4 separate regions of the Homo sapiens genome follow, and all the other regions are reported to be linked to region 2. The links are microRNA targets in miRTarBase. Many come from high-throughput screens and were not tested one by one. Region 2 holds a microRNA gene; each other region holds the end of a gene's coding sequence. Distances are between the middles of the regions.

Region 1 (3,120 bases), not on the chromosome of region 2:
GAATTAGAAAAGAACTAGAGCAGAGGCAGGGAGGCAAACCATTTCAGTGACCCAGACTATTTCATTGAAAAAGGAGAGCAAGAAACAGATTCCAGAGATGTTACAGCAAGGCAGTCATTGGACTTGCTGACTTACTGAATGTCAGATACTGAAACGAAAGGAGTTAGAGATGCTGCATTCACCTGCATTCCTTTTTAACCAAAGAAGAAAGAAAGAAATGGTTTTCATTGAAGCTTAAAATGTGTCTAAGACTTATTAAAGCTATTGGATCTAGTTCTAACTGCTTCCTATCACAGGGACTTTACTAGGGTAGAAGCAATGTCACCAGGATCAGTACTTGCATGGATGAGTAGAAGGACAGTCTTTCAGATTCTAATTGCATTCTTGTTCTTCTCAAGTCATGTAACACAGACTACATCCTGGATCCATCCCGTGATGAGTGTCCTGAATCTATCTCGCTCAGAGGAGAATGAAGAGGATTGCTCTAGAGAACTCCCCAACCAGAAAAGTTGATGGTTTTCCTTAGGAAGTGGAGCTACATGGATGATGTGAGCAGAGACGCATAACATCCAATTCTGAGATGAAACAGTCTAAAATAGGAGTAAAGCATGCACTACTTGTTGAAGTGTGAAATGGAGACTCTGGACTTTGGGTATTTTTGTAAAACTTTTGATATTTCTGTATACATTTAAAAAATCAATTGCCACTACAGTAGTTCCTTAAGAATAATCTAGTTATATTTTTTGAAATCACATATAATTAGACTTTATAATATATATACTTTTTCATATATAATTAGATCTTTCTTTGTAATTTCATATGTAGTTCTTCATAGGGTCTCAGATACAATGGTTTTTATAATTGACATATTGAAAAAGTATATGAACATAATGAAACACCTCATTTATTTGATAATTCACTAATGTTTTATATTCATATATTAGGAAAGTGAACTTAGCAAGCTTTTTGGAATTTAAGGATCACATTTAGACATCTCATGGGCTGATGAATACAGCTGGTATCTTTGTGGAGCTTTCTAATTTACAAAATGCTTTGTAGACCCCATTGTCTTTAAACCATACAACATGCCCGTGAAGCTGATCTGGTGGGTATGTTTATTCTTGGTTTTCAGTAGGGAAATAGCAGTTCAGAGAGAGGAAGCTCTCTGTCCCAGCACCGAGACTCACTCCTAAGTCTTCTGATTCCATGAGCAGTCCCCCTTCCCCCATACCCTGCTGTCTCCACGGAGGGAGGTCACAGCCCATCACGCAGGACACTGTGATTGTGTTGATGCAGCTGGCTCCACAGCTGTGCATTCCACAGAGATTCAGAAGGCACCTCTTCGGTCAAACATGGCCCCTCTATAACCCCACTATTCTTCTCCTATAAACCCTTCCCCCTTCTCTGCACCCAAGCCTTCGCCAAGTAGGCGCACTCTTTGTGATATTGTTTCAGCAGACTTCTTTCAGCAGCTCGTGTTTTTCTAAAGTGAAAGGCATGGTTTGTCCTGCTTAGGTTGCCCTTCCCAGAGGGATGGTTTGAGGGGAGCTGATGAGAAGAGAGGTATCTGTTAAAACATTACTGCTCTACTCGAAACAAGATGGAAGCCTAAAGCCCAAGTCGAGCAGCTCCCAGCACTGCTGTGCAGACCTAGAGGTCCTTAGAACATAGTCTAAGAACCATTCATTGTAGCCATTTTATAGTTGAGTAAACTGAGATCTTAAGTCTCCTAGTCTACTGAATTTCATATGGTGTATAATACAGATTTATATGGTAAAGATATACATATACATTGTGCTCAACTATACATTCCTGAATCCATTTAGGATTTGTGATTTATGTCTTGAGTAATAATATAAAGTCAACTCCAGACTGATAGGTAGTCATTAGCCATGAGAAATGTTTCAGGATGGCTAGGGAAGACTTGTGTTTTGCCTGACAGCCATTTGAATGTTAGGAAGCTTCGGGGAGACAAGTTTTGAGAGAAGCCCCAGAGGGAGCTATTTCCTTGCACCCCCCAGAGGTGAATGAGGTATTCTATAAGTTAGTGTCTATAATTGTGAAAGTACAAACTTCTTGTTTTTGTCAAATTAATGGTATGAAATTTCTCTCCCCCTGCTTGAAGAGTTTTCTAATTCGTTTCTAGTGAGCAAAACAAAGAAGGTGCTTGAGTCACTGAAATCAAAGTACTCAGGCACACAGCCCACTGACAAGAGACACCTCATCCATTAACTGCTGTTTTGTACCACTTGCCGCCCTGTTTCTGTCAAATACCTAGTGAAAAAGGCCTAAACAATTGTAATGATATTATTTATTGGGCATTTTGTGCCATACATGGTGATGAGCAGTTTGCATATATTTATTTATGATCTTCTTAAAACCATTCCATGAAATAGGAACTGTAATTATCCCCAATTCTAAAAGAAAAAACTTAGTTTTAGAGAGTTAGTAATCTTTGCCTAAGGGTCACAAAGCACCTATGTGTAGAAGCTAGGGTTCAAGGCAGATCTGTGATTCCAGAAGCTGTTCTCTAAACCACTATGGAGAACTGCTTAGATTCATTGTCTATGGGTACATTTTATAAAAAGGCAGATTCTAGTTCAGTGTCATAAGGAACTTTCTAGTAATTAGAGCTGATAAGAAAAGAATTCCCCAGGAGAAAATGGAAACACTATCCCAGCAATCTGAATTCCTTACTTGGGGAATGTTGCTGAGGAGGTTCAGTGTGTGAATGGACTGAACCAGTTGGCCACTCTCTCAGATTCCCTCTTCATAAAGCTTCCGTGACTTCTAAACCATCAGGTCGGTGCCATAAGAGATGCTCAAAAAAGCATGGTCAGGGCTTAGCAAGAATCCTTTTCCAGTGCAAATACGACCCTCATATTATGTTTTGGCGAGTAGCCAGTCTTTCTTTAACATCAATCAACCGTAGCAATGTGGTCATCACGAAGTCTTCATTGACTCACTGGCTTGGATTTTAGGGTTAGAAAATCTGAATGTTCTTATGTCCTTCCGTCTCACTTTACTAGAGTGCCCAAGTTGACTCATCCTTACTCACTCATTCCCTCAAAATATTTATTGAGCACCAACAATGTCACAAGCACTGTGCTAAACACTGTG
Region 2 (3,116 bases):
TCAGCACAGCCCTCTGGCCAGTATTGCTAGAGGACATGACACTGACATCAACAGGGTTTTTAAAGGCAGCGATGGCACGAGCTGCCAGCAGAAACTTCTTGCTTCTCCCAGGTCCTCTTCAGATGTAGGATGTAGACGCCATCACTTTTCTTCTTACAGATGTGCTACTCCATTTGGAAGTCAAGGTTGGTACCACCTAAGTGGGTTCCTGCTGCAAGGAACTTAAGGACATCCTCCTCCTTCATTTGCAGGACATCAAGGGCTCTAGACATTGTGAAAGTTTCCCTTTAAGTTACAATGAGAATTGTAGGGACCAGCCCCACAGGGTCGGTGGGTCTCTCCCCACATGCAGAGACGAGAGAGCGTAGAAATAAAGACACAAGACAAAGAGATAAAAGAAAAGACAGCTGTGCCCGGGGGACCACTACCACCAAGACACGGAGACCGGTAGTGGCCCCAAATGCCAGGCTGCACTGATATTTATTGGATACAAGACAAAGGGGCAGGATAAGGAGAGTGAGCCATCTCCAATGATAGGTAAGGCCACGTGGGTCACGTGTCCACTGGACGGGGGCCCTTCCCTGCCTGGCAGCCGAGGCAGAGAGAGAGAGGAGACAAAGAGAGAAACAACTTACACCATTATGAGAGACTTTTAGTACTTTCACTAATTTGCTACTGCTATCTAGAAGGCAGAGCCAGGTGTACAGGATGGAACACGAAGGCAGACTAGGAGCGTGACCACTGAAGCACAGCATCACAGGGAGACGGTTAGGCCTCCGGATAACTGCGGGAAAGCCTGACTAATGTCAGGCCCTCCACAAGAGGTGGAGGAGTAGAGTCTTCTCTAAACTCCCCCAGGGACTACTAAGTAGCAGGTGTTTTTCCTTGACATGCTACCGCTAGACCACAGTCTGCTTGGCAACGGGCATCTTCCCAGACGCTGGCATTACCCCTAGACCAAGGAGCCCTCTGGTGGCCCTGTCTGGGCATAATAGAAGGCTCGCACTCTTGTCTTTTGGTCACTCCTCACTATGTCCCCTCAGCTCCTGCCTCTGTATGGCCCGGTTTTTCCTAGGTTATGATTATAGAGCGAGGATTATTATAATATTGGAATAAAGAATAATTGCTACAAACTGATGATTAATGATATTCATATATAATCACGTCTATGATCTAGATCTAGTATAACTCTTGTTGTTTTATATATTTTATTATACTGGAACAGCTCGTGCCCTTGGTCTCTTGCCTCGGCACCTGGATGGCTTGCCGCCCACAGAGAATCTAGAACAATGCCGTATGGGCCCCTCTCTGGGTTGTGTGGAAAAGGCGTGAATTTATTTTAGTTTTTCAAACAAGTCGTGCGCTGGGAGACATCACAAATGCTATTCTTTCTGAGGAACACTTCAATCCTCTTCTCTTGGTGACCTCTATCAGTTTCTCTGGGAAGCCTTCTCCCTGAGCCTCCCATGCCCCTTCCTTCAATTGGGCTATATCCCCCCTCTCTAGACTCCTACAGAGCCTTCTCCCCCAATACAATAGAATCTTTGTGAGGTCAGATATAGTGTCTTCTCAATTGTATCCCCAGGTTTAACATATCACCTGACACACTGTAGGTGCTTAATAAGAGCTTATGGAATGAATGAAGTGCTATTGCAGAGATAAGCATAAAGCGGTATGTGAGTACAAAGGAAGGGAATCTAAATTGGAGTGGAGGTCTGGGAAAGGCCTCCTGGAAGAGGTGACACTTGAGGCTGACCTGAAGGACAAGTCGGTTAGATGTTTCAAGTGGTGAGAACGGTAGCATGAATGCTCAGCAGTGGGAACGCGGATGGTGCCTTTGAGTAATGGCCAATGACTGTATGGCTGCAGCTAGGGTCGGGGGGAATGGAATGGCAGGGAATCAAGCTAACTGACAGGTAGTTGAGGGATGGATTATGAAAAAGTGAAAGCCCGCTTTTCATTTCAGGCTTGGATTTTGTGTTTATTTACTTATTTATTTATGAGAAAGGGTCTCACTCTGTTGCCCAGGCTGGCACGATATCGGCTCACTGCAACCTCCCGAGTTCAAGTGATTCTCCCACCTCAGCCTCTCGAGTAGCTGGGATTACAGGTTTGCGCCACCACGCCCAGCTAATTTTTGTATTTGTATTTGTAATTTTTTTGAGACGGATCTCGCTCTGTCACCTAGGCTGGAGTGCAGTGGTCCAATCTCGGCTCACTGCAACCTCCGCCTCCCAGGTTCAAGCAATACTCCTGCCTCAGCCAACTGAGTAGCTGGGATTACAGGCCCCTGCCACCATGCCCGGCTAATTTTTGTATTTTTAGTAGAGACGGGGTTTCACCATGTTGGCCGGGCTGGTATCGAACTCCTGACCTCAGGTGATCCGCCGGCCTCGGCCTCCCAAAGTGCTGGGATTAAAGGGGTGAGCCACCCCGCCCGATAGGCTTGGACTTTGTTAAAGGCATACAGAATAACACGAAGTGGTGAGATGCAGAAAAAAGTAGTAATTTAAGAAAACTTGGCTTGCCACGTTGGTTCCTCTAGGGACCAGCCCTGCAACTCCGGGCAAGTCCTATCCCCTCTGACCAGAGGCAAAGTGAAACAGTGATGACATCTACCTCTAGCAGTGCTGTGACGATTAAATGCGATCTTAGGCAAAGCGCCTGGTATGTGCCGTTACTCGAAAAAATGACAGTTGTCCCTCTTCGCTCTGGCCCCATCCTCCTCATCTGCAAATGCCGGGAGGCCGGGCCACTCTCGCAGGTCGCTCCCGGAGCCAGCTGAGCAGTGGGAGGGGAAGCGGTGGGACAGAAGGGCGCCAGCCAGTCGTCCGGGCACCGTGGCTGGTTCGGCTGCCGCTCAGCCGCGCGGGGGCGCTCTAGACTGCTCCTCGTGCTCTATGGTGTTGCCTTCGCCCCGGAAGTAGTTGCGCAGCTGGGGTTGGTAAGGTCGGGCCATGGTGGGGCAGAGGTTGGGAAGATGGCGTGGCGAGGCTGGGCGCAGAGAGGCTGGGGCTGCGGCCAGGCGTGGGGTGCGTCGGTGGGCGGCCGCAGCTGCGAGGAGCTCACTGCGGTCCTAACCCCGCCGCAGCTCCTCGGACGCAGGTAATAGCCGC
Region 3 (3,120 bases), 130 Mb from region 2:
CGGGGCCTCCCCTCCTTTCCAGAAGCCACAGTCCCCACAGCACAGCCCCAGTCCCCCAGCCATGAGGACTTAATATCCATTGGTATGTGGCTTGGGATGAAGGCAGGAACCATGCCAAGTGTCACTGTGACAAATGTCAAGTGTTGTTGTGAAAAAGGAGCAGAGCTGCCTACGGGCCCAGCTGCCCTTTGCCAGTGTTTTTTTTTTTTCTTTTAGTTCAAGATCCTCCTGAAGTCCCAAGAAGGTCAGTCTTACAAGCCCACAGGCCAGGATGTTCCTCATTTAATGAGCAATCTCGGCTTTGTACAAAGCCCTCTAACTCCTTCCTTCCCCTGATACCCATCTTCCTCCTTTCTAGAAAGCACCACCCAGTCTCTTTCTTTAAGTCCTTTTCCAGCTCTAAAACCTGTTTGGGAAATCATGAAACAGAAGTCACTCAGGGTGACCTTCTTTCTCATGGAATGGATGGGAGGGCTCTTCATTTTCAGCTCATGTGCGCAGCATCAGTCCATTTAGTACAATACACAGATACACAGTAATGATATAATTATGTGATGCAAATATTAACTTCATCCCTTTCCTTGTAAATTCAGCTTTTCTCACCAGAGCTCAGGGGCAGTCATGACAATAAAAATAACAATAGTAATTACAAGAAATGTGCTCTGAGTACAGAGAAACCACAAGGCCCATCTCAACACACAAATACAAAAACAACTCGCATTTACGGGGCGTTTCCAGGAGTTAATAGCATACAGTACCATGGGTAGGGTGTGGTTGGCAGAAGCTGTCCACTTTTTCTAAGTGCAGGTGTTCGTTGCTGAGGATCTTGTGCTCCTCCTCCCTTCGTTTTCTAGAGTAACTTCCCAGAGGACCCTGCCTGGAGCCTGCCAAGCCAGAGTCCAGCGTAAAGGCCCGGAGGGCTGTTTGTGTCTTTCTGGCCTCCCTAGGGTAGAGGGCAGAGCTGGCTGCAGCTCTGATACCCTTTCCTGGAGCTCTGCACTCTCTCCTCCCCTCTTTAATCCCCTCTGTCTCCCCTCCCTTCTGCTCTTCAGCCCCCATCCTTTCCTCCTCTCCTCCTCTGCCTTGACCAGCTGACCTCCCAGCAGACAGCACCGCAGGCTGGAAGGCTTCTCAGGGCGTTGATAGGTTAATCTCAGTGCTTCTGGTTCATTTATTACATGGTCAAAGGGGAGAACGGAGGGACTATTTCAGGTCCCAGTTCTCTGGAGGTGCCAGGGGTAAGGGAAAGATAAAACCCAAGGCAGTCTGGGTTTGAGTTTCAATAGGGCAGGGAACCCTGGCTTGCTTTTTATCTTTTTTTCCCCTCCTTTCTTTGTCTTGGTTGTTTTAATGGAGGGAATCTCAAACCCAGTGCTCTTATCTCCTTCCAGCCAGTTTTGTGTGTCATGAATGTGTTCATGTGCAGGCTGGGAACAACTTTTCATTTAGTCCTCCTCCTCCCCTCTGTGCTCCCCAGCCTGAGAAACTGGTGATGGCAAAAACACCTCCCCTACATGCCCAGGCAGAACGCGTCCTTGCCATCCGAGCCTTACCCCCGAGAATCAGCGGGACTTACACTTCTTCGTCCTTTTCTCTACCTTGTTTCCCCCTTAAAAGAAAAACAGTCTTCCTAAATCCATTTAGCATAAAACAGAGATTCCAGAGATGGAAACACTGGGTCTTCCAGGTGGCTTCTGAGCTAACTGATGCCATCCTGAGTTCTTGTGGACACCTGTTCCTGCCTGGGTCCCACAATCTATCCTAAGGGTCTCCTGCCCTCTATCCATCTCCATATCCTCTCAATCTTCTGCATCCCTGGCCCTGATTCTGAGGGCTGCAGGGCTCACAGAGCCTCCACATTCCCAGCCTCCAGGGCTGCGGCATGCTTGCATCACCCTGGGAAAGACAGCCCACTCTTCCCGCCTGCACCCTTCCCCAGCTCCCCCACCCTATCTCTAGTCCACAGACACAAGGGACAACAATGCCCCAGAACCCACCCCTCCCCGCTCGTGGACATGGAGAGCCTGACAATGGGGAGGGGGTCCTCTCAGGAGGGGCAGGCATCCCAGCAACCCTGGCCTGGGGAAGGGAAGTCAGGCTGTGAGATGCCCCCACCTGGTTTACAAAGTGAAGCCTGAGCCCTGACCACCCCAGATCCCTGGGGGCTCTAGCAGTCTATGCCTCTAGATTATCTACACCTCTCCGTGATTCTCAGATGGAGAAGAGGCGGTGGGCAGTGGCAGGGAGCCACCAAGATATCACGGCGCGACAGGAGGGGAGGTGCATTGTTGCTCCACCTTCCCAACACCTCTGTGTTCCCTCCCCAAGTCGGTCAGGTAGGCTCTTCTTACGGGGTGCTAGCTTAGAGGCCATTTCCACCCTCTGGCTCCCTGCAGGCCCCCTACCGGGATACCCCCTAGACGCACCCACACACCCACTCTGAGGGTCACTCAGAATGGCCATTGTTCTGTAGGCTGGGAAAGAACCACCCAACCCTCTTGCCTCTGGGCACACCCGGAAATGTGTTGCGGAAGCCAGGCCATCTCTGAGAACAAATGGCAGATCCCTTGGGGCTGCCAGCAGCCAGAGGGTGCTGGCTCCAGCTGGGTCTAAGAGCACAGAGAAGGGCAGGGAACAGGCTTCAAGAACCCAGCCCCTCCATTAGACCCCAGTAGCGGTGTGGGGGCAGAGACACCTGTCTCTAAGAGGCAAACAGACATCCTGACCCCTCTGCCCTAGCTGGGTGGGTGGGAGATGCTGGGGGCTGCTAGTGGGCCCCCCAGCCCATCCTGACCACCCCTCCTCTGCCCCCTTCTACGTGGCCTCCACCTCCCGGGGCGTCCGATTGTGCTCGGCATGCACCCGGCTCTTCATCTTCTTGCCTAGCTCCAGCCCTGCCCAGCTCTTGCCCCTGGCCTGCTTGCCCCGGCTCCGGCTCCGGAAGCAGCCTGAGCATTCCGTGGTGCCCCTGCACCACACGCGCTCACAGTACTCATCCACCCGGGGCAGGTTGGCGAAGCCAATGAGCTGCAGGATGTCCTTGTACCAGGCCTTGGGTGGGGTGGAAGCCAGGCCTCCCCGGGCTGGGGGCTCCTCTGGCTTTGGCTCCGGAGGGAACAG
Region 4 (3,120 bases), not on the chromosome of region 2:
TGACTAGTTTTCTCAAAGCTGGGTCTGGAAGCCGTATGTTCTGAACATGGGATTAAGTAATTACAATCCCTCAGTATTTCATTTCATAAATTGAGTAAATGATAGAATAAATGCCCTATAGCCTTTTAGGGCAGGTGATGTTCATGAACATGCTAACAAAGCTATGAAAAATACAAACATAAATAATACTGAGATCTATTTTTGGTCCTTCAGCTTCTGACCAAAAGATGGTGAAACTCTTCTACATCTGGCACTGTGCATCAAGAGAATTTTACTCCTTGACATCTCCTGCTTCGGCCTCACAAGTAGCTGGGACTACAGGCATGCACCACCACGCACAGCTTATTTTCGTATTTTTAGTAGAGACAGGGCTTCACCATGTTGGCCAGGCTGGTCTCGAACTCCTGACCTCAGGTGATCCGCCCACCTCAGCCTCCCAAAGTGCTGGGATTATAGGCATGAGCCACCACGCCCGGCTGACAGATTTGTTTTCAATATGAGTTTGGCTACTTCAGAACAGGGGCCATGACTATCTGCCATGACAATAGTTACTTTAGTTGAATGATCTCCAGAGTTCTTCAAAGTGAGAAGTCAAGGCTTTGGATGATAATCCTTTTCTAGAGTATAATGTAATTTTTTTTTTTTTTTTTTAAGACGGAGTTTCACTCTTTTGCCCAGGCTGGAGTGAAGTGGCTTGATGTTGGCTCATTGCAACCTCTGACTCCCGCCCCAGGTTCAAGCAATTCTCCTGCCTCAGCTTCCCAAGTAGCTGGGATTATAGGCACCTGCCACCAGGCCAGCTAATTTTTGTATTTTTAGTAGAGACAGGGTTTTGCCATGCTGGCCAGGCTGGTCTCAAACTCCTGACCTCAGGTGATCCACCTCCCTTGGCCTCCCAAAGTGTTAGGATTACAGGCATGAGCCATTGCTCCCGGCTGTATAATGTACTTTTTTTTTGTATTTTTAGTAGAGATGGGGTTTCACCATGTTGCCCAGGCTGGTCTCGTACTCCTGAGCTCAGGCAATTCACCCGCCTCGGCCTCCCAAAGTGCTAGGATTACAGGCATGAGCCACTGCGACTGGCCAGTACTCTTGACCACTATTTTTAATACATGACAAACCCTCTTGCTTCAGATTTTAGGAAATGATTATAAGCTCCAAGAATCATTATTTAGAGAATACTTTATTAGTTTCTGTAATCAAACCCATGTAGATAAGACCTTACATATTTAATACAGTGCGTTACCCCTGTACAAATGGAAAAAAATTAAGTTTAACGTTTCTAGACCAATATGGCTGTTAATTTCTGTACAATGCCAACTCAACACAGTAAACCGGGATACTTTTTCCAAAGTTGACAGCACAGCTAAAGTTTCCAAAAATTCAAATTATATATATATATGTATATATATATATATATTTATATAAAAAGACCAATAGCAGTATGTTATGCATCAATAGCAGCAACAGCTTTTCCAGGTTCTGCAGTCATCTGAATAAAATTATAGAGACATCCAGCACACTCCATTTAAAAAAAAGGGGGGAAAAAGGTAAAAAACAAAACCCCAGAAAATTGCAAAGTTCTGTTACTGTTGTGGTACCTGGCACCGTTTTTTAAAATTAGCTTCTGAATCATCATCTGGAAAGAAAACATTCTAGAATAACATCATTAAAAACAGCTCTGATAAAGCACGGTCACTACTACGTATCATAAAGCAGGTACAAGATATTTTACATTCACAGAGGTATGATACAGTACTGTCCTATATCTATAATACTAGAGGATACAATTAAAAAGGCATTATTTGAGACTTGATTCTACTTTTCCAGCAGAGGGCCCAAAGGATGGCATGACACAGCTCTGTAAAGAAATGCACCTTCTTAGGATTTCCTTTAATTAGTGGCACAGTTCTAGGTACTCACTGTTCTTCATAAACACCAGCTAAAAACTGGTATAAAAAAAAAAAGAAAAAAACCCCCAAATCATGGGATTCATACAAAGATGACTGAGTGGGGGCAAGGAAGACTCAACCTAACCAGCATTTTACCAAATCTGTCATGTTTGAATCGTGAGAGCTCCATGGAAGAAAGGAGATGCTAAGTAGCGCTTCAAAGCTTCAGACCACAACCAAAACACAGCACCATTTCAAATAGAAGCAGTAGCCAAACACTGCTCACTTTGATATGGTTCAAGGATGCTGACATCAATATTTATCTGCTCATTCATCCAGGAAGAAGGGGACATCAGTTACTACTGTACTTTGATTGTGTTCAACTCAATCACCATGTTATAAAAATAGCAAGCTGCCATAATAAAAAATAAGGCTCCTCTATCCAGCACCAGTTATCTTCAGTTCTTTACCTCCAAGCCTACAAATGCCATAACCATATCCGAAGAACATAAGGGAGCAAAAAAACCGCATCTGATGTAGTAGCTGGGACCATCACACTGTTCAGGCTGAGCTATTCCTCTGCTGTGTTATTTTCCTTATATTTTTGGTGTTTCATCTAATCATAAGGATTTTTAGGTCTAAATTATATGCACTCAAAAAAATGGGTGCATACATTTATATATAAATTCTGACTGAAGATGCATGGCCATCAACCAAGCACATGTTATATAGTAGGTACAAGCTTGCAAAGCCTCGTTTTCACTGGTACAGCAGCTGTGTGTCAGTGTAAATTGCTCCTATGTCCCTTGTACATCTCCAAGCTCTGAACAGGATAATGTCACAGGCCATTTTGCCCCTTTGGCTGCCAGCATTATCTGACTTAATTCTCCATGTTTTCCCGCCCCCCTCCCAATCCCCTGCAATAAACCATAGCCTTTAAGATTTTGTTTCTTCGGTTTTGATCGCCTGAGGTTTGATTGGTCCAGTTCTAACAGGTTTGGTGGCTATGGAGGGTGCAGGGGGTGGCTTTTCTTCTACTTTTTCCTGACAGACCCCAGGAGGGTCGGTCAGTGTTTCAGGAGGTTTACTTGAATCACTGTCCACTTTCTGGGCTTTGCCTCCTCCTATCTGTTTGCTCTGTTGCTGTTCAGAGAAGAACCGTTGCGTGGACTGAAGAACCTCTGCTCTCTGCTTTGCCTTAAAAAATGAGAAAGAACAACTGAAAATA

The links. Region 2 holds the annotated microRNA hsa-miR-4448 (GGCUCCUUGGUCUAGGGGUA, at 948-967, opposite strand). A microRNA usually pairs through its seed, bases 2 to 8, with sites in the 3' UTR of a target mRNA and lowers its output. Matches are read on the target gene's strand: a 7mer-m8 pairs with bases 2 to 8, a 7mer-A1 pairs with bases 2 to 7 and ends in A, and an 8mer does both.
Region 1: the mRNA of STXBP4 is a reported target of hsa-miR-4448. The part of its 3' UTR that is shown has no 7-base or 8-base seed match.
Region 3: the mRNA of SEMA3G is a reported target of hsa-miR-4448. Seed matches in the 3' UTR shown: 7mer-A1 at 830-836.
Region 4: the mRNA of PRRC2C is a reported target of hsa-miR-4448. Seed matches in the 3' UTR shown: 7mer-A1 at 2,685-2,691.

The regions. Positions count from the first base shown.
Region 1 is chr17:55,159,399-55,162,518 of GRCh38, forward strand. STXBP4 (syntaxin binding protein 4) reads left to right here. Exons shown (of 18, transcript NM_178509.6): 18 at 399-3,120. The coding sequence ends at 513. Among named protein-coding and RNA genes, the nearest start is that of HLF, 100 kb to the right of the region's middle.
Region 2 is chr3:183,884,711-183,887,826 of GRCh38, reverse strand. It overlaps MIR4448 (microRNA 4448), which reads right to left and starts at 1,027; the gene lies at 942-1,027. PARL (presenilin associated rhomboid like) reads left to right here and starts at 2,947. Exons shown (of 10, transcript NM_018622.7): 1 at 2,947-3,105. The coding sequence starts at 2,981. It also overlaps the pseudogene RPSAP31. RefSeq lists enhancers at 2,498-2,727, 2,768-2,817 and silencers at 2,767-2,917, 3,028-3,116.
Region 3 is chr3:52,432,789-52,435,908 of GRCh38, forward strand. SEMA3G (semaphorin 3G) reads right to left here. Exons shown (of 16, transcript NM_020163.3): 16 at 247-3,120. The coding sequence ends at 2,815. Among named protein-coding and RNA genes, the nearest start is that of SEMA3G, 11 kb to the right of the region's middle.
Region 4 is chr1:171,591,556-171,594,675 of GRCh38, reverse strand. It overlaps PRRC2C (proline rich coiled-coil 2C), which reads right to left. Exons shown (of 35, transcript NM_001387844.1): 35 at 1,165-3,089. The coding sequence ends at 2,829. Among named protein-coding and RNA genes, the nearest start is that of MYOCOS, 29 kb to the left of the region's middle.